Regions from separate parts of the Homo sapiens genome. Here all the other regions are linked to region 2. The links come from fine-mapping of genetic effects on gene expression. A gene starts in region 2. Each other region holds a variant in brackets. All regions are shown on one strand. Distances are between the middles of the regions. Region 1 overlaps TOP6BL (TOP6B like initiator of meiotic double strand breaks). Region 2 holds the start of TOP6BL (TOP6B like initiator of meiotic double strand breaks). Region 3 overlaps TOP6BL (TOP6B like initiator of meiotic double strand breaks).

Region 1 (7,748 bases), 81 kb before region 2:
GGGCCAGAAATAGAACATGCTGAGTTCCAGTACTGGAAACCAAGGGGGAAAGTTCTCACAGAAAGTTTATACAGGGAGATGAGGAGGCAGACAGTAGGCAAGCCATTAAAGTTAAGAGTTTTCTTAGTTTTCATGAAGGCAGTAGAGAAAAAAAGAAGGCCTGAGATACTTGGTGTAAGACAGGCAGTTGTGGCTCCTATATGTCTTCCCACTTCTGTCATCTAAGCAAGATCCTTCAAAGAAGGTCTTTGTTTTCCCATCTCTCTTTTTTTTTTTTTTTTTTTTTTTTTTTCTGAGACAGAGTCTTGCTCTGTCACCCAGGCTGGAGTGCAGTGGCACAATCTTGGCTCACTGCACCCTCCGCCCCCTAGATTCAAGTGATTCTCCTGCTTCAGCCTCCCGAGTAGCTGGGACTACAGGCATGCACCACCACACCCGGCTCATTTTTGTATTTTTCGTAGAGACAGGGTTTCACTATGTTGGCAAGGCTGGTTTCGAACTCCTGACCTCAGGTGATCCACCCGCCTCAGCCTCCCAAAGTGCTAGGATTACAGGTGTAAGCCACTGCGCCTGGCCTGTTCTCCCATCTCTGTAGGAGATAAATATCCAGAAGATCCATCTGTTCATGAAGGGGTTATATAAACTGCTCTTCTATAAGAAGAGTTTCCAAGACAGCACAGGTTCTACTGCATAACTGAGGCTGATATGAGACTTTTTTTTTTTCTGACGAGTCTTTTAGGGAGGAGAGGAACAAAATAATACAGTTTGCACCCACAGGAAATAGGTAACAGCTTTCTACTTTTAAATATATAATTATAGGATGTTAGAATTAAAGGGGACCAGGGTAATAACCTAATACATCACACTAATTTTATGGATGAGAAAATTGAAATTCAAAAAGGAGAAGTGGGCTGGGCGCGGTGGCTCACGCCTGTAATCCCAGCACTTTGGGAGGCCAAGGCAGGTGGATCACCTGAGGTCGGGAGTTTGACACCAGCCTGACCAACATGGAGAAACCCTGTCTCTACTGAAAATACAAAATTAGCTGGGCGTGGTGGCGCATGCCTGTAATCCCAGCTACTTGGGAGGGTGAGGCAGGAGAGTCAAAAATTAGTCAGGCGTGGTGGCACATGCCTGTAATCCTAGATACTCGGGAGGCTGAGGCAGGAGAATCGCTTGAACCTGGGAGGCAGAGGTTGTGGTGAGCCGAGATCGCGCCATTGCACTCCAGCCTGGGCAACAAGAGCGAAACTCCGTCTCAAAAAAAAAAAAAAAAAGCCAGGTGTGGTGGCTCATGCCTGTAATCCCAGCACTTTGGGAGGCCGAGGCAGGCGGATCACCTGAGGTCGGGAGTTTGAGACCAGCCTGACCAACATGGAGAAACCCTGTCTCTACTAAAAAATACAAAATTAGCCAGGGGTGGTGGCACATGCCTGTAATCCCAGCTACTGGGGAGGCTGAGGCAGGAGAATTGCTTGAACCTGGGAGGCGGAGGTTGCAGTGAGCCGAGATTGCACCACTGCACTCCAGCCTGGGCAACAAGAGCGAAACTCTGTCTCAAAAAAAATAAATAAATAAAAAATAAAAAAAAAAGAAGTGACCCACCCAAGATCTCACAGCTAGTTAGTACAAAAGTTAGGGCTTTAATGGATACCTTAGAATTCCCAATATAGTGTTCTTTTCACTACCCTGTGCTATCCACATGACCCAGAAAGTTGAAGCTATGATAAAATGCACTAGCTTATAAATGTGTTATACACTTTGACTCATAACTCCATTTATAGAAATTTGTTCTAGAAAATAATTCAAAAGAAGCAAGATATTACATAAAGGTATTAACTGAACCACTATATAAGCAAGAATGTAAACAAATGTCTAACAGAGGAATGGTTTATTAAATTAGATTTAAACAATACAGTGGGATATTAACTAAAAATTCTAAGACTGTTGAAATGGGGAAAATGGCAAATTATATATGAAAATAGAATGCTTTGGTTACAAATATATATGAGATAATGAGTAAAAATTATAGTGATAAATTTTATTAGTTATTATTTTAAAATTTTTTTGTGTTATACTAGCTTTTCAAGAAAACTATACCAAAAAAATGAAGCAGGCCAGGGCGTGGTGGCTCATGCCTGTAATCCCAGTACTTTGGGAGGCCAAGGCGGGCGGATCCCGAGGTCAGGAGATTGAGACCATCCTAGCTAACACGATGAAACCCCGTCTCTACTAAAAATACAAAAAAAATTAGCTGGGCGTGGTGGCGGGCGCCTGTAGTCCCAGCTACTTGGGAGGCTGAGGCAGGAGAATGGCGTGAACCTGAGAGGCGGAGCTTGCAGTGAGCTGAGATCGCGCCACTGCACTCCAGCCTGGGCGACAGAGCGAGACACTGTCTCAGAGAAAAAAAAAAAAAAGCAACAAATATGGAATGATAAGTTGCCCATTGATAATACCAGTTGGTCAGCACACATTCCTAAAGGAAGGGAAACACTAACATTTATTGAGAATCTACCGTATGCTATGCACTTTGACACTGTCTTAGTCCATTCGGGCTGCTATACCAAATTCCTATAGACTGGGTGGCTTATAAACAATAGAAACTGATTTCTCACAGTGCTGGAGGCAGGGAATCTGAAATTAAAGTGCCAGCATGGTCAGGTTCTGGTGAGGGCCCTCCTCTGGGCTGTAGGCTGCCCACTTCCTCCCTGTGTCCTCACATGGCAGAAGGGGCAAGGGTCTCTCTGGGGCCTTTTTTTTTTTGGTTGGGACAGAGTTTCGCACTTGTCACCCAGGCTAGAGGGTAATGGTGCGAACTCAGCTCACTACAACCTTCACCTCCCAGGTTCAAGTGATTCTCCTGCCTCAGCCTCTCAAGTAGCTGGGATTACAGGCGCCTGCCACCACGCCTGGCTAATTTTTTTTGTATTTTTTTTTTTTTTAGTAGTGACAGAGTTTCACCATGTTGGTCAGGCTGATCTGGAACTCCTGACCTCAGGTGATCCACCCACCTTGGCCTCCCAAAGTGTTGACATTACTTACAGGCATGAGCCACCACGCCCGGCCTGGGGCCTTTTTTATAAAGGCACTAATCCGGCTGGGCACAGTAGCTCGGGCCTGTAATCCCAGCACTTTGGGAGGCCAAGGCGGGTGGATCACCTGAGGTCGGGAGTTTGAGACCAGCCTGACCAACATGGAGAAACCCCGTCTCTACTGAAAATACGAAATTAAGTCAGTGTGGCGATTCCTCAGGGATCTAGAACTACAAATACCATTTGACCCAGCAATCCCGTTACTGGGTATATACCCAAAGGATTATAAATCATGCTGCTATAAAGACACATGCACACATATGTTTATTGCGGCACTATTCACAATAGCAAAGACTTGGAACCAACCCAAATATCCAACAATGATAGACTGGATTAAGAAAATGTGGCACATATACACCATGGAATACTATGCAGCCATAAAAAATGATGAGTTCATGTCCTTTGTAGGGACATGCATGAAACTGGAAACCATCATTCTTAGCAAACTATCGCAAGGACAAAAAACCAAACACCACATGTTCTCACTCATAAGTGCGAATTGAACAATGAGAACACATGGACACAGGAAGGGGAACATCACACACCAGGGCCTGTTGTGGGGTGGGGGGAGGGGGGAAGGATAGCATTAGGAGGTATACCTAATGTTAAATGACGAGTTACTGGGTGCAGCACACCAACATGGCACATGTATACATATGTAACTAACCTGCATGTTGTGTACATGTACCCTAAAACTTAAAGTATAATAATAATAATAATAATAATAATAATAATAATAATAA[TAAA/A]TACAAAATTAGCCAGGCATGGTGGTGCATGCCTGTAATCCCAGCTACTTGGGAGGCTGAGGCAGGAGAATTGCTTGAACCCAGGAGGCGGAGGTTGCGGTGAGCCAAGATCATGCCATTGCACTCCAGCCTGGGCAACAAGAGCGAAACTCCGACTCAAAAAATAATAATAAAATAAAAATAAAGGCACTAATCCCATTCATGAAGGCCTAATGACCTAAATCACCTCTCAAAGGCCTCATACCTCCTAATATTATCAGTTCGGGGGTTAGGATTTCAACATATGAATTTTGGGGATATATAAACATTCAGACCATAGCACACATTTAGCTCTCACCTTCATAATAACTCTGTGAGGTACTATTACTTTTTCCAATTTGTAGACAAGTCTCAGAACTATAGGCCTAAACATAACTAATAAGTAAATGAGTCAGGATTTGAACCTGAGCCTCTGATTCCGTACTGCCACATACACGTAATAGGTAAGGTTGCTCAGTTATTTCCAGTGTATTCTGTCACCATGAGATAGCATTTTTCAACAAGGAATTAGATTAGGAATCACTGATCTAGTCCTAGCTCTGTTCTTTTTTTCTTATTCTTTTTTGAGACGGAATCTCACTTTGTCACCCAGGCTGGAGTGCAGTGGGGTGATCTTGGCTCACTGCAACCTCCACCTCCCGGGTTTCAGCAATTCTGCCTCAGCCTCCTGAGTAGCTGGGACTACAGGCGTGCACCACCACGCCTGGCTGATTTTTGTATTTTTAGTAGAGACGGGGTTTCACCATGTTGGTCAGGCTGGTCATGAACTCCTGACCTCAAGCAATCCACCGCCTCAGCCTCCCAAAGTGCTGGGATTACAGGCATGAGCCACCACACCCAGCCCTAGCTCTGTTCTTAACTAGCTGTGTGACCTAAAGAAAGCAGAAATCTTAAATAATTTGTTTTCTCATTTGTAAAATGGTATACATACTACTATTCCAACAAATATTTCTTAAAACTTAAGCCTGGTACTATGTAGCATCACAGTGGAGCAAATAAAGTAATGTTTCTAAAAATACTGTACATTTTACAAAGATAAGCAGTAGAATGTCATTAAAATCCTGGCTTTTTTTTTTTTTTTTTTTTTGAGGTGGAGTCTCGCTGTTGTCACCTGGGCTGGAGTACAATGGGGCGATCTCGGCTCACTGCAACCTCCCCAACCTGGGTTCCAGCAATTCTCCTGCCTCAGCCTTCTGAGTAGCTGAGATTACATGCAACTGCCACCACGACTGGCTAATTTTGTATTTTTAGTAGAGACAGGATTTCACCATGTTGGTCAGGCTGGTCTCAAACTCCCGACCTCAGGTCATCCACCCGCCTTGGCCTCCCAAAGTGCTGGGATTACAGGCATGAGCCACTGCCCTGGGCATTTTTTTTTTTTTTTAAGACAGGTCTCAGTCTGTTGCCCAGGCTGGAGTACAGTGGCATGATCACGGCTCAGCCTCAACATCCCGGGCTCAGTTGATCCTCCTACCTCAGCCTCCTGAGGAGCTGGAACCACAGGTGTGCACCACTCCACCTGGGTGATTTTTTAATTACTTGTAGAGACAGGGTCTCCCTGTGTTGCCCAGGCTGGTGTCAAATTCCTGGGCTCAAGCAATCCTCCTACCTTGGCCTCCCAAAGTGCTGCGATTATAGGCATGAGCCACCGTACCCAGCCAAAACCCTGGCACTTTTAAGCATCCCCAATCCCAATCTCCTACTAACTTGAAGGGTCTGGAGACACATCTTTCGGAAGCTGCTCCTAGTGCTTCCAGTCAGAATACTCATGATGGAGTTCACAGCCACTGAGAGTGAGGCCTGTAGTTTCTGCTGAGCCTGGGGAACATAACAAGTAAGGGGGAGACTGCATGAATCCCAAGATGTGGTTTAGAGAATCCCAGAGGGCCCACACATTTCCATCAGAGCAGGATTTCAACAATTCTTCCTATCCATCAACAAAAGTTACTGAGATCCTCACATATTTTTACATCATAACACTTAGGGAATTAAAATAAAATTTTAAAATGTTCTTGCATTTCACAGAGGTGACTTACTGACACAGACACATCAGAGAAGACAAGCAATAGGACAATGATCAAGAAAACAGACACACTATTTGGGAAAAAAAAAAAAAGCTTTTAGTTCTGCTCTCTTAGTGTGGTTGTTTTTTCCCTGAAAAGGGGGCCATATGAGGTAAGAAATGTGTTACCAAAAGTACACAGGATGGATGGATGTAGAAAATCAGGTAAGGAGAGAAAGTGGTGGTGTAAAGAATTAGGAAAATGGGGGAAGAATGTAAGACACAGCGAAACAGCAGCTCCAGAAGTCTGTGTGGGAAGGGGAATTATATGCATAAGGAAGAGGTGTGTTATCAGCCATTTTTCCCTATTAACTATTTCCCTATTTACCCAAACACACCTACTAGGAGGTAAGACTAAGCAAGCTGGTTACAGTGATCCATCTAAGCTAAAGTTTGAGTTGTAGGCTAGATGCAGTGTTACAAGATCACCCAGGTGACAGAAGAGGAGAGGAAGGGGCATTAAGGGAGGAAGGGCTCCTGGGCCCTGCCTGCCATATATGCTTGCTATCTTTTTCTTAGAGAATAGGAGAAAAGAGGCTGTGAATTCCTTATTACCTTGGCAGCCTGGTGATGTTGCTCCAAGACCTTGTCCACAGTGAATTGGATGGAACCTTGCACTACACTGTGGCTCTCCACAAGGATGGCATTGAGATGAGTTGTGAGCAAAGTATAGACTCCTAAGGGGAGGGAGAAGGTAAAATTATCACTATATCTACCTCCCCTCACTGTGCATCTGCAAAAGCTAGTCTTAAATTACCAGATGTGGCCTGTAATCCCAGCACTTTGGGAGGCCGAGGCGGGCGGATCACGAGGTCAGGAGATCGAGACCACGGTGAAACCCCGTCTCCACTAAAAATACAAAAAATTAGCCAAGCACGGTGGCGGGCACCTGTAGTCCCAGCTACTCGGGAGGCTGAGGCAGGAGAATGGCGTGAACCCGGGAGGCGGAGCTTGCAGTGAGCCAAGATTGTGCCACTGCGCTCCAGCCTGGGTGACAGAGTGAGACTCCGTCTCAAAAAAAAAAAAAAAAAAATTACCAGATGTGTAAGATTTAAGACACTTGTTTACTAATACACTGATGAATTTCTTTTAAATCCAATACTGAGTACAACGACTGAGATACTGCAGGCCCTCAGAATCAAGCTAAACAGAGGTGTACAAATTATCACAGTAGTTCAGGAATGATAACACTGGTTTCTGAGGAATCCGAGTTCTTTAGAAATGTTCAGTAGGGCTCAGAACATGGTATCAGGCTTGCATTATCCAAGGATTAACCATGAGCGAGGATAACTACTTCAAGATTGCTGTTCATGTGCTTTGAGTCAGGACTGGGAGTGGGAAAGATGCCTCTTGGAAGAAGAGACCCCTACATATCCACAAATAATTACCTTTTTTTAGACAAAATCTCCCAGCAACTTACACACCTACCTAATTCCCACTCATAAATCTAAGAAAGCTCAGGAAAATTAAGGTGGAGAATGACATTATTTTTTAAAGAAACAAATAAGGGATCCTGTTTAATTCATAGCAGAAATATATACCATGTACTATAAACAACAATCCCAGTGACTCCCAAAGGAGAGGAGAAAGGGAGAAGCAAAGGTCCTATAGAGTGTGTCTAACCCTACTCTACGTCTATGTGAACATCACTGTTGTGGCAGTGCTTTCAGACGTACTGTGGTAAAGAAAAGGTTAAAATTCACAGAGATGACACAGAACTGTTGGTATGAGGTCCTTTTAAATGGGAGATTATCTCTGTTAAAGTAACCACAGGCACCACTGCTCAGTCTCATTCAGAAAAGCTAATAT
Region 2 (7,748 bases):
GAGCCCATAAGATTGAGGCTGAAGTGAGCCCTGATCAGGCCACTGCACTCCACACCTGGATTTGAATCCCTGATGTGCCAAATTCTAGCATGTGACCTTGGGCAAATTACTTAATCTCTCCAAACCACAGACTCCTCATCTATTAAAATGGGGATAAAACTACCACATAGGGCTGCTGCTGAAAGTAAACAAATAAGGTACGTGCAACGCTGAGCGCAGTGGCTCATGCCTGTAATCCCAGCACTTTGGGAGGCCAAGGTGGGAGAATCGCTTGAGCCCTGGAAACATAGTGAGGCCCCATCTCTACTAAAAAAAAAAAAAAATTAAATAAAAATATGTGCAAAATGCTTAACACAGTACTTGGCAAATAGCAAATGCTTAACAGATATTAGCTATTATTTCTAAGTTCTAATGCAGTAAAGACTACACACAATATTTTAAGTTGAACAGGACTCCAAGATGTCTGGGTAAAACATTTAATCGACCGGGTGTGGTAGCTCACACCTGTAATCCCAGCACTTCGGGAGGTTGAGGCGGTGGATCACCTGAGGTCAGGAGTTCAAGATCAGCCTGGCCAATATGGTGAAACCCCATCTCTACTAAAAATACAAAAATTAGCCGGGTGTGGTGGTGTGTGCCTGTAGCCCCAGCTACTTAGGAGGCTGAGGCAGGAGAATTGCTTGAACTCGGGAGGTGGAGGCCACAGTGAGCCAAGATTGGGTCACTGCGCTCCAGCCTGGGCAACAGCAACACTCCGTTTCAAAAAGAAAAAAAAAAACACATTTATTCGAGACAAATTGAAAATAAAATATATTTCATTTATTTTTGGGGGGAGAGAGGGGACAGAGTCTCACTCTGACTCCCAGGCTGGAGTGCAGTGATGGCATCATCATGGTTCACTGCAGCCTCAACCTCCCGGGCTCAGGTGATCCTCCCACCTCAGCCTCCCAGGTAGCTGGAAGTGCAGCCGCCTGCCACCACACCCTGCTAATTTTTTTTTTTTGAGATGGAGTTTTGCTCTTGTAGCCCAGGCTGGAGTGCAATGGTGCGACCTCAGCTCACTGCAACCTCCGCCCCCTGGGTTCAAGCGATTCTCCTGCCTCAGCCCCACAAGTAGCTAGGATTACAGGCATGTGCCACCACACCTGGCTAATTTTGTATTTTTAGTAGTGACGGAGTTTCTCCATTTTGATCAGGCTGGTCTTGAACTCCCGACCTCAGGTGATCCGCCTGCCTCGGCCTCCCAAAGTGCTGGGATTACAGGCGTGAGCCACCGCTAATTTTTGTATTTTTTTCAGAGACGGAGTTTCCTCATGTTAGCCAGGCTGGTCTTGAACTCCTGATCTCAAGTGATCTGCCCGCCTCGGTCTCCCAAAGTGCTGAGAATACAGGCTACCCACCGCGCCCGGCCAACTCCCATTATTATTCATGCAAACAGATTCTCACTTTTACAGGGAGGCAACACAAGGAAAATTATTACCCCCTTTTTAAAGGCAGGGAGATCTGGGAACTAAGATCCTCATTTGTACCAGTTAACAAGAATGGTTTCCAGGTACGTGTAGAGTCTAACTATTCCTTCACACGTCCTCTGTTACGATATTCCCATATCGGGCCGGGCACGGTGGCTCACGCCGGTCCCAGCACTTTGGGAGGCGGAGGCGGGCAGATCACTTGAGGTCAGAAGTTCAAGACCAGCCTGGCCAACATGGTGAAAACCTGTCTCTACTACAAATACAAAAATGAGCCAGGTGTAGCGGCGTGCGCCTGTAATCCCAGCTACTCGGGAGGCTGAGACAGGAGAATCCCTTGAACCCGAGAGGCGGAGACTGCGGTGAGCCGGGATCACGCCACTGCACTCCAGCCTGGGCGAAAGAGCGAGACTCCGTCTCAAAAAACAAACAAACAAACAAACAAACAAACAAACCCTAAAGATATTCTCATGTCGGTATGACAGCGCAGTTGGGAAAAGAACACTGGCCTATGAGTCAGCGCCCTGGGTTCTAGCCTAGGTTCGGTTATTTGTAAAATGGAATCCCGCCGCCTTCTTTGATGACAACAAACAGGCAGGACGCCCGGGGGTACTCTCTCAGGTGCCCTCAGAGCCTGTGCTTCTGTCACCTGCCCAGTACCCCTCACAAACAGCAGCTCAACGTCCCATTGGGCACCGGCCGTGAAAGTGGGTAATGAAATGAGCACACGGGGCGTGGCCGGCGCCAGGCGCTCAGTGCCGTCTTCCAGAGCAGCTCCCCGAGCACAGGTGTGGCCTCTGAACCTCGCCCTTCCACGTCCAGCTGCTTCGAACCCAGAAACCTGCACCTGCACCGGGGCCTAAAAAAACTCTCCCTCGCTCCCAGTCTGCACTGGGTCCCTCCTTGCCTCTGTCCTGGCGCCCCGACTCCCCCCACCCCGCCCCGCAACGCCAGGGCTTGCCCCATTCCTTTCCTTCTTTCCGCGCCCCCTCCCAGCACCCGGTGCATGGAAGGCGCTGGGCTCCGGCAGGCACCTCCGAGGCTGCGTCAGGCTCTGCCCCTGGGTGTCCGCCGGTGCTCGGCAAACGCCGCAGCTTTCTGAGCCGTAGGCTGGAGAGAGGGCGTCGTTCCCCCACAGAGTACCCCGCGAGCGAGAGCCCTCATCTGCTCCTACTTCCTCGCTTCCCCGTGGGAGACGGGCCTCGATTCCCGAACCTTCCTCCTTCACCTTAGGCGACGCCCGACCCCTCTGCCCAAACTTCGCGGTCTCCTCACAAAGCCCGTCTCCTCAGAAAGTGTCCTCCGCTTTCTCTCCCTTCCCAGCATCACCTCGAACACGGCCACGGCCGTCCCCTCCATGCCGCGCAGGGAACAGCGGCAACGCCCAGTCGAAGGGTACCCGCCCGCCGCCGCCGCCGCCGCCGCCGCCCCCTCCTCAGCCCGGGCTTGGAACTCCGCCAGTGCCCACGCCCGAGTCCACGCCCACGCCCGGCAGCGCGAGCCCATCCCTTCCCGCGCGCGCGCCTGCGCCCGCGCACGCCCCGCCCACCTGCCCGCCGCGCCTGCGCACTCGACGCTGCAGGGCCCCGAGACCGCGAACCGCCGCCGGGAGCCACCTAGAGCCTCTGAGCGCCGCGGGTGCCAGTGGGCCCGCAGGTGGGAGGTTCGGGGCGGGGAAGAGCCCGCGAGAGGCGGCCAAGGCTGGAGGTGAGCGGGAATGAGGCCAGGCCACGACTCCTCCCTCCTCTCAAAGATAGTTTCCCACGGTGGCGGCGAGATGCGGCCCTTGGCCCTAATCCGGGCTTTGGCCGCCCTTCGCGCTTTCCAGGACCCTTCCCTCGGCCGGGAGGGGCGACGGTAACGGCGCGGGGCTACCAAGCGGGTTCGTGACCCCTCCAACAGCCTTGTCTGCGGCGGGGGCTGCCCCAGGCCAAGCCCTGGGTCCCAGACTTAGCAAAGAAAAAGACGGCCAATTAAAATTGAATTTCATATAGACAGCGAATTTTTTTTATAACCATACACATATCTCGGCAATTTTTGGGACATATACTAAAAAATTACTAATCTGAAATTAAAAACGACGCCCTGGGCCGGGCGCAGTGGCTCACGCCCGTCATCCCAGCACTTTTGGAGGCCGAAGCGAGTGGATCACCTGAGGTCAGGAGTTCGAGACCAGCCTGGCCAACATGGTGAAACCCCGTCTCTACTGAAAATACAAAAATTAGCCGGGCGTGGTGGCGGGCGCCTGTAATCCCAGCTACTCGGGAGGCTGAGGCAGGATAATTGCTTGAACCTGGGAGGCGGAGGTTGCAGTGAGCCGAGATCGCGTCATTGCACTCCAACCTGGGCAAAAAGAGCGAAACTCTGTCTCAAAAAAAGAAAAAACGACCCCCCGTCTTTTACCTTACAACCAGCCCCAAGCATCTCCCAGCCTAATCCAGGGGGACCAGCTTCCCCCGCAAAGGTGGGACCTGGGAGTCGACCCCTCCCTATCCAGGCCCCTTTCCACGTTTGACTGCACTGAATGTGCCAAGACCAGGAGCTGGCTTTTCTGGGCTCTGGCTGACAGGAGAAGCTCTGGGGTTTTCCAAGTGCATTCCTGGCTGGAATAAGGAGGTCCTGCAGAGTCCCAGCTGCTGCTCTCTGCCAGGTTCCGGGAGGGGCATGGTGACAGGGGCTTAAGCCTATAACTGCTGGTGATCTGACAGCCAAAAGAAAACCCTGATGAGAGATTCCTGCCTGGCAAAGAGTTGCCCAAGGAGAAGGGTGGGACAGGGTGTTGGCTGCTTTCCTTCAGGAAAAATTCTTCCACCCCAGCTCCAAGACGCCAGGATTGGACAGAACAGGCTGGCGAGCTGGCAGAGTGCCTGCCCAGTACACAACCTTGGTGCTACTCCAAAGAACATTGTCTATCGAGACCTGAATCATACCCTTCTCGAGTCTATGCTCAGCGCTCCTCCCCATTCCTCCCCATCTCAGTTGCTCACAGGTAGACCTATTGGAGCAAGGTAGCTTTTATTTCTGGAAAATCCATCGTAACCATCAAACTTGATAAACAGCTGGCATTTGAGGAATCATTGGAGTCTTCCTTTCATTCCCCCCACACCCCCCGCAGAGCTCCCCATCCCCACCCCCAGTCTCTTGTCCTTTTTCAGAAGAGGAGTTGCCAAGGGGAAGGGACCAGTAACATTGAATGACTGCTTGTTGTCGGACCCCACTAGCTCTTTACATAAATGATGTCATCCTCTCAACTATCTTGTAAGAAAATTGTTATCGTCACTATTTTATGGGTGAGAAACCAAGGTATTGAGGATGGTTCTTTAAAATATTTCCCATCGTGGCCGGGCGCAGTGGCTCACGCCTGTAATCCCAACACTTTGGGAGGCCCAGGTGGGTGGATCATTTGAGGTCAGGAGTTCGAGACCAGCCCAGCCAACATGGTGAAACCCCACCTCTACTAAAAATACAAAAATTAGCCAGGCGTGTTGGCATGTGCCTGTAGTCCCAGCTACCTGGGAGGCTGAGGCAGGAGAATTGCTTGAACCCGGGAGGTGGAGGTTGCAGTGAGCTGACATCACACCACTGCACTCTAGCCCGGCTGACAGAGTGAGACTCTGTCTAAAAAAAAAAAAAAATTATCATTGTGAGTGTTGGCCCAGCAGAAAATGCTCCACCTTGAGAATGGCATTGAGAATGAAGATGAGTTGGTTTCCTAGCTTCCAGCCCTTGTCCTTGGAAATGAGCCTCTAGCTTTCAGCCCTTGTCCTTGGAATGAACTTCAGGGATAAAGGTGTAATGGAGCACCCAATACCACCCTAGAGGCAGTGGAGGCCTCTCAAAGGTAGCCAGGGACACAGCTGTCCTCCCTACTGGACATAGGGAGAAGCAAGGAGGGAAGCCTTCGATATGAGGGTTTGCCATCAGGACTTCCGTAGCGTAAACCCACGTATTCAGGCAGCATGCAATATAGGCTTGATATATGGTGAGAATCCACTCTGTGCTAAGTGCTCTTCACTTTTTCTTATTCATCTTAAGCAGTTCTCCCAATTTTGTAATCTTGTAAGAAAGATGTTATCTTTGTTTTAGAAATGATAAAAATGAGAATCCAAGAAGAAGTTGTATGAATAAATCAGGCATGGTGGCTCATGCTTGTAATTCCAGCACTTTGGGAGGCCAAGGCAGGAGGATTGTTTCAGGCCAGGAGTTTGAGACCAACCTGGGCATTATAGTGACAGCCTGTCTCTACAAAAAAATTTAAAAATTAGCCAGGTACAGTGATGCATGCCTACAGTCCTAACTACTTGGGAGGTTGAGGTGGGAGGATCTCGAGCCCCTCGAGTTGGAGGTTGCGGTGAGCTATGATTATGCCACTGCACTCCAGCTTAGTGACAGAGCAAGACCCTGTCTCAAAAAAAAAATTAAAATTTTAAAAACGGTTTTTTGCTCAGACCTCATCCTCAGAACACTAGAATGTTAGAGCCAGAAGGGACTTTGGAAATTATCAGTTATCTATTAAGATGAAGAAATTTGAAGCCCAAAGAAACTAAATGACCTGCCCTTGGTTAAGGTCACCTTAGTTAACTAGGCCAACCAAGGAGGCTTTGAGTATGGCTCTCGATATTTTCAGCCCTGGCCTTCCAGGTCTCATTTATTGGCAGTGTCTGTAGGGAGCCAGTTATTTCCAGTCCTTAGACTGGGTGACATATTGATTCTGCTTCCATTTCTGCACCCACCTCAGAATTTATATTACTGTTTCATGTTGTATTAGTTCATTCTCATGAAGACATACCCGACACTGGGTAATTTATAAAGGAAAGAGTTTTAATTGACTCATTGTTCATCATGGCTAGGGAGGCCTCAGGAAACTTAGAATCATGGCAGAAGGGGAAGTAAACAGATACTTCTTCACATGGCAGCAGGAAGGGGAAGAATGAGTGCCCAGTGAAGGGGGAAGCCCCTTATAAAACCATCAGATCTCTTGAGAACTAATTCACTATCAGAAGAACAGGATGAGGGAAACTGCCCCCATGATTGAATTATCTCCGCCTGGTCCCTCCCATGACACATGGGGATTATGGGAACTACACTTCAAGATGAGATTTGGATGGTCACACAGCCAAACCATATCACATGTCTACTTTGGATATCTTGTTTATTCCAAAAAGAAACCCTCTGTCTGAGACACACTCCCTGCCCCCCTATAAGAAGAGCCCAAGACTGATTCTGACCCAAACTCAAGGGTTTGAGTGGAACCAGAACATCCTAGGGAGTGCTGCCAGATGAACAATGACATTTTAGGGACTGTTGAGCTTTCCTTTTGAATGTGCCCTCTCTGTGTCTCCTAGACACTTCTTAAGGCCCCACCTTGTTTCTTAGGCTCCCCTAGAGCTTTCAAATGCCCTAAAGAGGCTGACCCTAGGAACTTAAGTAGAAAATATCCTTGAGGTCCGCCTTTCCAAGCTGATGCAAAAGGAAGTCCATTTGAAGACTCCCTCCCCTGGGAAAGAACCAAGCAACTATTAAGCTGTTTCCCATCCAGACAGTAGGAAAGGGTTAACTGCTTCTCTCGGGTCCTGAGCAAAGTCTGTCCCATACCAGTTCCCATAACCGGGTTTCCTGAAATGGAGCAGGTCCCAGGTGACTCTCCACTAATCACATCCTTGGAAATGGGGCCATGAGGCTCAGATTAGCTCATCCCTTCACCTTCTTGAGGCCTTCTCCACCTGGAGCACAGAATCTGGGGCAGCTTCACCACTCACCTCCCTCTGCTTTCTTATCAGGGGTCAGACAGGGATGTTCTAGCAGAGGAATATTATTGGGCTAATGGGGGCAACTAGAGGCCATAATGGTGCTGACTTTTGTGCAATTCTTGGACTACAGCATCTGTTCTTCCCCTTTCTAAGACTTAGGGGAAAAGAGAGATTCTTTTCCTGGGACAGTACCAAAGTTTATATAACTCGAGTATTTCGTTCTTCACCCCCATTCCCTGTTTTCTTCCTCTCCTTGAATAACTGACTATGATACTGACTAACTTCCTGTTCTTCCTGGCCAAGTCACCCTTTGCACAAAGTCTGATTTCTCATCCACCAGTAGCAGGTGCTGGGCCAGCCCAGGAGATTTCATTCCTTTCCTATTATTGTCCAATTTTTCCTCTGCCTAGATAGCCAATAAAATCTACATCACAAAGTGGTTCTGCCCTGTGTAACTGGCTTTTTTTTGAAGGAGTTTTGTTCTTGTTGCCTGGGCTGGAGTGCAGTGGCAGGATCTCGGCTCACTGCA
Region 3 (7,748 bases), 24 kb before region 2:
TTCCACTTAAGTACTGAACCCCTCAAAGTCATCCATAAGGGTTGGAATCAATTTCTTCCAAACTCCTGTTAACGTTGATGTTTTGACCTCCTCCTATGAATGACGAATGCTCTTAATGGCATCTAGAATGGTGACTCCTTTCCAGAAGGTTTTTAATTGACTCTACTCACTATCTATGGCAGCTATAGTCTTATAAAATGTATTTCCTAAATAATAAGCCTTAAAAGTTGAAATTACTTCTTGAACCATGAGCTGTTCATGGATGTTCTGGCAGTGCATTTGACAGTCCCACCCATCTGTCTCTTGCTTCAATAGTATTTGGATGGAACAAACCCAGGGACTCCCTCTCTTCCAGCCTCCAACTGCCCTCCACTGTCCTCTCCACTTGCAACCTCCAGGACCATCTTCTCGGCCATCTCCTGCTTCTGAGACCAGCCAACACTGTTTTTGTGGTTAGCTCCTTCTTGCCAACTAGACTCATCAGAATTATTTCATCGAGTTGGAGGCAGCTGTCAATCGCCTGGTCAATTTGTATCTGTAGGCCTCCTACATCTCTCTCATTCTGGGCTTCTATTTTGACCACAATGATGTGGCACTGGAAGGCACTGGCCACTTCTTCCACAAATTGGCTGAGAAGTGTAAGGGTGCAGAGGATCTCTTGAAGTTGCAAAGCCAGCATGGCAGCCACATTCTATTGCAGTAGAGACGGGGTTTCACCATGTTAGCCAGGATGGTCTCAATCTCCTGACCTCATGATCCGCCCACCTTGGCCTTCCAAAGTGCTGGGATTACAGGCGTGAGCCACCACGCCCAGCCTCAAATTTAAATTTCTTAAAAAGAAATTGGAATGGCTGAGGATGGTGGCTCATGCCTGTAATCCCAGCACTTTGGGAGGCCGAGGTGGGAGGATTGCTTGAGCCTAAGAGTTCAAGACCAGCTTGGGCAACATAGCAAGACCTCATCTCTAAAAAAAAAAAAAGAAAAAAAGAAATCCAGAAGAAGTGCCATTTGGATAACCTCAACCTTTTCAGAAAAATAGAAGGTAAAGACATTTATTGAGTGTCAGGTAATTTGAAATATACACTATGAGAATTATATAAAAGAATAAACAAGATAAGAGTACTGAACAACCCCAAGAAGTTAGAAATTCTCCTTAAATTTATAGCGTACCCAACATTCAGTTTTATGATTTACACAAGTAACACTTGGCAGCTTGGAAATAAGAATGAAAAAATAATAATAATGGTGATTACCCAAGCCTGGAGACTGATAAGAAAGAAAAAGTAGAAAGTCAAGGCAGCAGGGGATTATACTATGCTAAGTGGCCAACGATGGGTAAGGAGGCCAGAAGGGGTGTCAGGAAAGAGAAGAGGGAAGTAAAGGGGAAGATGGAGTTTAAAAAACTTCAATTTCATATTACCACTGGTGTGTGGAGCATTTGTTTTGAGATAGAGTCTGGCTCTGTCACCCAGGCTGGAGTGCAGTGGTGTGATCTCAGCTCACTGTAACCTCCACCTTCTGAGTTCAAGCCATTCTCCTGGGTCAGCCTCCCAAGTAGCTGGGATTACAGGCACCGGCCACCACGCCTAGCTAATTTTTGTATTTTTAGTAGAGATGAGGGTTCACTATGTTGGCCAGGCTTGTCTCCAACTCCTGACCTCAGGTGATCCTCCCACCTCAGCCTCCCAAAGCGCTGGTATTACAGGCATGAGCCACCGTGCCTGGCCTCATTATGTTTTTGACTTGCATTTTTCCCTAATGACTAATGATGCTGAGCATCTATCTTTTCATGGGTTTACTGGCCATGTGTGTATCTTTTTAGGATAAATGTTGTCTTAGTCCACTCAAGCCGCCATAACAAGAGACCATAAACTAGGTAGCTTAAACAAGAGAAATTTATTTCTCACAATTCTGAAGGCTGGGAAGGCCAAGATCAAGGTGCCAGTTGATTTGGTTCCTGATGAGGGCTCTCTTCCTGGCTTTCAGATAGCTGCCTTCTCATTGTGCCCTCACATGGCCTTTCCTTGGTGGATACAAGGGAGGGAGAGGGAAAAAGAGAATAATCTCTCTCTCCCTTCCTCTTCTTATAAAACTGCTAATCTCAGGCCAGCCGTGGTGGCTCACGCCTGTAATCCCAGCACTTTGGGAGGCCGAGGCAGGCGGATCACAAGGTCAGGAGTTTGAGACCATCCTGGCTAACACAGTGAAACCCCATTTCTACTAAAAATACAAAAAAAAAAATTAGCCGGGCGTGGTGGTGGGCGCCTGTAGTCCCAGCTACTCGGGAGGCTGAGGCAGGAGAATGGCATGAACCCGGGAGGTGGAGCTTGCAGTGAGCCAAGATTGCACCACTGCACTCCAGCCTGGGCGACAGAGTGAGACTCTGTCTCAAAAAATAAAAATTAAAAAATAAGTAAATAAATAAATAAATAAATAAATAAAACTGCTAATCTCATGAAGGCCCAACCCTCATGATCTAATCTAACCCCACTTACCTCCCAAAGGCCCCATCTCCAAATACTATCACACTGGGGGTTGGGGCTTTACCATATGAATTTTGCTATTTGTCCTTTAATTGTTGTTGTATAAGTTCTATATGTACACTGGATACTAGACTTTTCTTATCTGTGGATTATTTATTCACCTTTTTTTTCTGAGTTTTGGAACTAGAGACCTTCATTTTCCAGCTTTTTTTTTTTTAGGTATAATTGATCTTTTCACTTTCTTAGTATCATCTTTTGAAGCATAAGAGTTTTTAATATTGATTAAATCCAATTTCTCTACTTTTCCTTTCGTTGCTTGTGCTTTAAATGTCATATCCAAGAAAACATTGCCTAATCCAAGGTCATGAAGATTTAAACCTTTCTTTCTTTTCTAAGAGTTTTATAGCTTTAGTTCTTTGATCCATTTTGAGGTAATTTTTCTATGTGATGTCATCTGACCATTTTTCAGAATGTATTAAATGGCTAGCCATAAAGTCTACTCAAGAAAAAATACAGTATCCCCTCTTCCCATTCCAGCCAAATTCCACTATACCACTATAGGGAGACAACTCTCCTTGTGTTCCCAGCTGAGAAGATGAAAGATGTGTGGTAACCCAGAAGGACAGAGTTGGAACAGTAAGTGCCCAGCTGATTACTCAATGAGGAATTGTAACAGTTCAAGCATTTTAAGCCAGCCAGGTACAAGGCAGGTTAGCTCTCATGGGCTGCTGAATAAAAGCAGTTATGTACCACTCAGCCAGAGAATGAGCCAGCTCCCAGGATCTCTAATAATAAGAGCTATCCTTTTCCTCCTGTTTTATCTATCCAAGTTCAAAAGGAAAAGGAATATGTCAGGGTTGGTAAAAACCACTTCTGTCCTTTCCATCCCCTTCTGTCACATCAAATCTTGAACATGTTCTCAATAGTGAAGTGCAATTAGATAAATGTAACAAGGAAAAGAGTAAAGAAATATTAAGGAAGCAAAAAAAA[A/C]AAAAAACAAAAAACAAAAATCTGTTTTAGCGTGTCTTGATCTTCAGCCAACCTTTATAAAATCTTACCAAGCGTTAGGTAAATTTGGCAACAACAGCCTGTTTAGAATGTATCAAAAGCTTAAAATTAAGTGTAGTCTCTCACAGTTTAATGGATAACCAGCAACCTATGAGTCTACAAATGTTTCCCTTCTTAGTATATGAGGCTAAGTCTCAGTTTTCTCATCTCTGAAACAGAGATGATGATAACACTTATGTCTGACTGCTCCTCAAGAATGAATGAGATCATGTCTACAAAATGAGCTCCCGGGGGAAAAAGCGTTAGATAAATTCTGAGCCTTAGAGTTGTTGATTTTGTAAGATATAAAATTATAATAGATTTTTATTCTTGAATACAAGAATCTCAGACTTAAAAAAAAAAAACTTGATTACGTCAGACATTCAAGAGTTCACCATTGTGAGTTTCTTACTCAATGTTGAGCAAGTCTGGACCTGTCAATCTCTCTAACCCATGAAAAGCACCACTCCTCACTTTCTTTCCCAACAAATTAACAAAGAGGACAAAAGTAAACTTGAAAATAAACAGGCTGGGCATGAAGGCTCACACTTGTAATCCTTACACTTTGAGAGGCCAAGGTGGGAGGATCGCTTGAGCCCAGGAGTTTAAAACCAGCTTGGGCAACATGGTGAGATCTCATCTCTACAAAAAATAAAATAACTAGCTGGGCATGGTGGTACACACCTGTGGTCCCAGTTACTCAGAAGGCTATAAATGGGAGGATCCCTTGAGCCCAAGAGGTCAAGGCTGCAATGAGCTGTGGTCATGCCACTGCACTTCAGCCTGGGAAACAGAGCAAGACCCTGCCTCCAAAAAACAAAACAATGAACAACAAAAAAGTCTCCCTGACACCAAAAGGGTAGCATATAGGGAAGAGGCAAAAACTGAACTATCATAGCCATGTAACCATATATCAACAGCAAAGCAGTCCTCCCTGTTTACAAGGACTGGTATTCTTATCTAGTCTTATGAAGAAAAAAGAAGGCTGTAAATTTTATTTGGGAAAAACACTTGCACATCTTTTTAAAATAACTGGCCATACTGTATAAAGAGCTAAGTTATGTCAATAAACATGGAAATGAGAAGCTATTTTAAAAAGACAAAAATAAAAATAATATGAATAGAAGAAAGAGGAAAAAGCAGCAAAATAAAGATCTATAAACATGGATTTTTTTCATATTCCTCCATCCACTTTCCTTTCCTCACTTGAATAAGGACATAATAGGAAGCAGAGCTGAGCAAATAGGACAAACTGAAACAATCATGTTTCACTAAAAGACATTTATGATAGAAATAGTTCTATATAAATGGATAAGTATACACATAAATGAATATATAAATGGAATTATACCTAAGTAGATAAGTATTCAATGCAGACAGTAGCACACATTTAACATGTAGTGACAATTTTTTAAACACATAAGAACTTATCTATCTTAATGGGCATTATTCTGCAAAGTAGAGGGGATTATCCTCTTGAGAGAAGGCCTTAACTCTGGTCTGAAGTACTTAGACCTAATATAATAATAAATAAGGAATCATTAAGGGAAGAATGTAAGCTATGTTTAAATTAATAAGAATTTTATATTATAAAGGCAGAATTAACGAAAAATCAATTACATAATGAGGAAACAAAAAAGGAGAAACCCCACCATAAAAACCAAGATTTTTAACGCTGGAGAATTATGAGTATGTCAATATCACTGAAAGGAATGCAGACATTACACAATAAGTTCATTTCAAGAAACTGAACCCCATGTTAGACATGTTACACAGGATATTTCAGAGGAACTCTCAAATGGAATAGTCTAATTGACATTCAAAGCTATTCCATTGGAGTTTAGGAGACATGTCAGTGATCAAGAGGGGGAAAAATAAGTCTCATCAGCATAGTTAATGTTAGTTAAAGTCTTGAAAGTAGAAAAGCTGTCTGAATTGAATGTAGAATAATGATGCAGAATAATGAAGGGAAGAAAAGCACATTGGTGACTGAACTTTGGGGAATATCCTCTGGGTTATGAGAGAAGCTCTTTCAACTTACACCTCCATTACAGTACTAATCACACTGCATTTTATTTGCAGAGCTGCCTCTACTTCCTGTGACTTCTTTGTGGCAAGGTAGATGTTACAATAAAAGTTTACTGAATAAAAGTATAAATAGTTAGGGACCAGAGAAGAAAGGGGAAAAAAGAGAAAATAAACCAGTAGAGAAGTAGGTGAGTAGGGAGATTACAATGGTCATTGCTTATTAATCCAGCATAAATAAAATACACAGAAATATGAGCCTATTTGGTACAGGAATTGATCTAAAGTATTCCAGATCCAGAGAAAAAAGTACCTTGATACAACCCTGGTAGAACAGATTGAAGAGTAAAGGAAACTAAAGCTGATAGTTCTTCAACAGTTCAGCTCCCCTAAAGAAGGGTCAGACCACTTGTTTTAGACACTGAGAGAAATCAGCCAAATAATGAAGAAAACAACAGAGTTAAACTGAATTTACAGACATATTAACTTTGTATAGATACACAATTTTTTAGCATCTAGAAAACTGATGAGTAATGAATCCAGCTGCCAGAGACTCCCTGATGAAGCTAACTAAACAGTGTAAAGATCAGTAAATGGACCAATTTAAAGCAGTTTGCTATTAGCTTAATAGTGTCAGAAATTCTAAATAATAATAGTAAAAAAGGCATAATTAATGGTGCATAAACCAGGGAGCTAAGGGATTCCTGTCTTATTCTTCACCAATTTCCTTTGTGAGGTTCACTGAGTAATTTTTGTTACTAATTAGTAAGAATAACTAGGCCAGGCACAGTGGCTTACGCCTGTAATCCCAGCACTTTGGGAGGCCGAGGCGGGTGGATCACCTGAGGTTAGGAGTTCGAGACAGGCCTGGCCAACATGGTGAAATCCCATCTCTACTAAAAATATAAAAATTAGCTGGCCGTGGTGGCAGGCGCTTGTAATCCCAGCTACTTGGGAGGCTGAGGCAGGAGAATTTCTTGAACCTAGGAGGCAGAGGTTGCAGTGAGCCAAGATCACGCCACTGCACTCCAGCCTGGGTGACAAGAGTGAGACTCCATCTCAAAAACAAACAAACAAACAAAAAGAATAACTAGCATTATTGAGTGGAGGTTAATATTAAGAGCCCTAACAACTGGAGAGAAGACTTAGGCTACAGTTGGCTACTAAATGTGATTGAGCATGAGCAAATGATTCAATTTTAATTATGTACTTGATGTGCAGTACTTCCTCTTTGTACGAAGAGTTAGCCACTCACACTTTATCACAATAAGGATTAAATGAAATTGCTTTGAGTTTTTAAAGTAACAGTTAAATTAAAACTAAGTCACCATGACAAAAATTGTCTAGAGTTTGTATTGGCATGAGTATGTGGTTATTCCATAAATGATAACCCATAAATGATACTCCCTAAGAGTAACAATGATAATAAAACTATTCTCTTGTAGTTACACGGCTTTTCACTTTTTTCAAAGCACTTTCACAAATATTAGTCAAACAAGTAGCCTTATATATGATCTGACCACTCCTTGTACAAGCACATTAAGTGTGGGTTTATTTTGCAAGGAATGCTCCTATCTCCTCCCTAGTGCTAATAATATACTCCATTTATATAGCTTTTTTTTTTTGGAGACAAGATCTCACTCTGTCACCAAGGCTGTAGTGCAGTGGCGCAATCACAGCTCACTGCAGACTTGACCTCCTGGGCTCAAATGGATCTCCTGCCTCAGCCCCCTAGTAGCTGGGACCCCAGGCACACCTAGCTGATTTTCACATGCCTGGCTGATTTTTGTATTTTTTGTAGAGATGGGGTTTCATCATGCTGCCCAAGGCTCGAGCAATCTGCCTACCTCAGTCTCCCACAGTGCTGGGATTTTAGTCAGAGCCACCATGCTTGGCCAGATTTTCACTTCTTTATTTTTTTTTTTTTTGGAGATGGAGTCTCGCATTGTCGCCCGAGCTGGAGTGCAGTGGCATGATCTCAGCTTACTGCAACCTCCGCCTCCCAGGTTCAAGCGATTCTCCTGCCTCAGCCTCCCAAGTAGCTGGGGTTACAGGTGCCCACTACCACCCCCAGCTAATTTTTTTTTTTTTTTTTTTGTATTTTTAGTAGAGACAGGGTTTCACTATGTTGACCAGGCTGGTTTAAACTCCTGACCTTGTGATCCGCCCGCCTAGGCCTCCCAAAGTGCTGGG

Evidence for each region. PIP is the estimated chance that this variant, and not a neighbour inherited with it, causes the effect. A credible set is the group of variants that fine-mapping cannot tell apart.
Region 1: its variant is the best candidate, but not a certain one, in a credible set for the expression of TOP6BL in whole blood (INTERVAL, PIP 0.90).
Region 3: its variant is the best candidate, but not a certain one, in a credible set for the expression of TOP6BL in blood mononuclear cells (TOPMed, PIP 0.87).

What each region holds. Positions count from the first base shown.
Region 1 is chr11:66,820,511-66,828,258 of GRCh38, reverse strand. TOP6BL (TOP6B like initiator of meiotic double strand breaks) reads right to left here. Exons shown (of 15, transcript NM_001302084.2): 10 at 6,495-6,616; 11 at 5,585-5,695. Among named protein-coding and RNA genes, the nearest start is that of RCE1, 19 kb to the left of the region's middle. The variant TAAA/A (reference allele first, on the strand shown) is at 3,836.
Region 2 is chr11:66,739,970-66,747,717 of GRCh38, reverse strand. It overlaps TOP6BL (TOP6B like initiator of meiotic double strand breaks), which reads right to left and starts at 2,949. Exons shown (of 15, transcript NM_001302084.2): 1 at 2,799-2,949. It also overlaps a transcript of SPTBN2 not described here. RefSeq lists enhancers at 2,091-2,180, 2,621-2,730, 3,222-3,722 and silencers at 2,361-2,460, 2,871-3,260.
Region 3 is chr11:66,764,401-66,772,148 of GRCh38, reverse strand. All of the region lies in intron 2 of TOP6BL (TOP6B like initiator of meiotic double strand breaks), which reads right to left. It also overlaps the pseudogene FTLP6. Among named protein-coding and RNA genes, the nearest start is that of TOP6BL, 24 kb to the right of the region's middle. The variant A/C (reference allele first, on the strand shown) is at 3,474.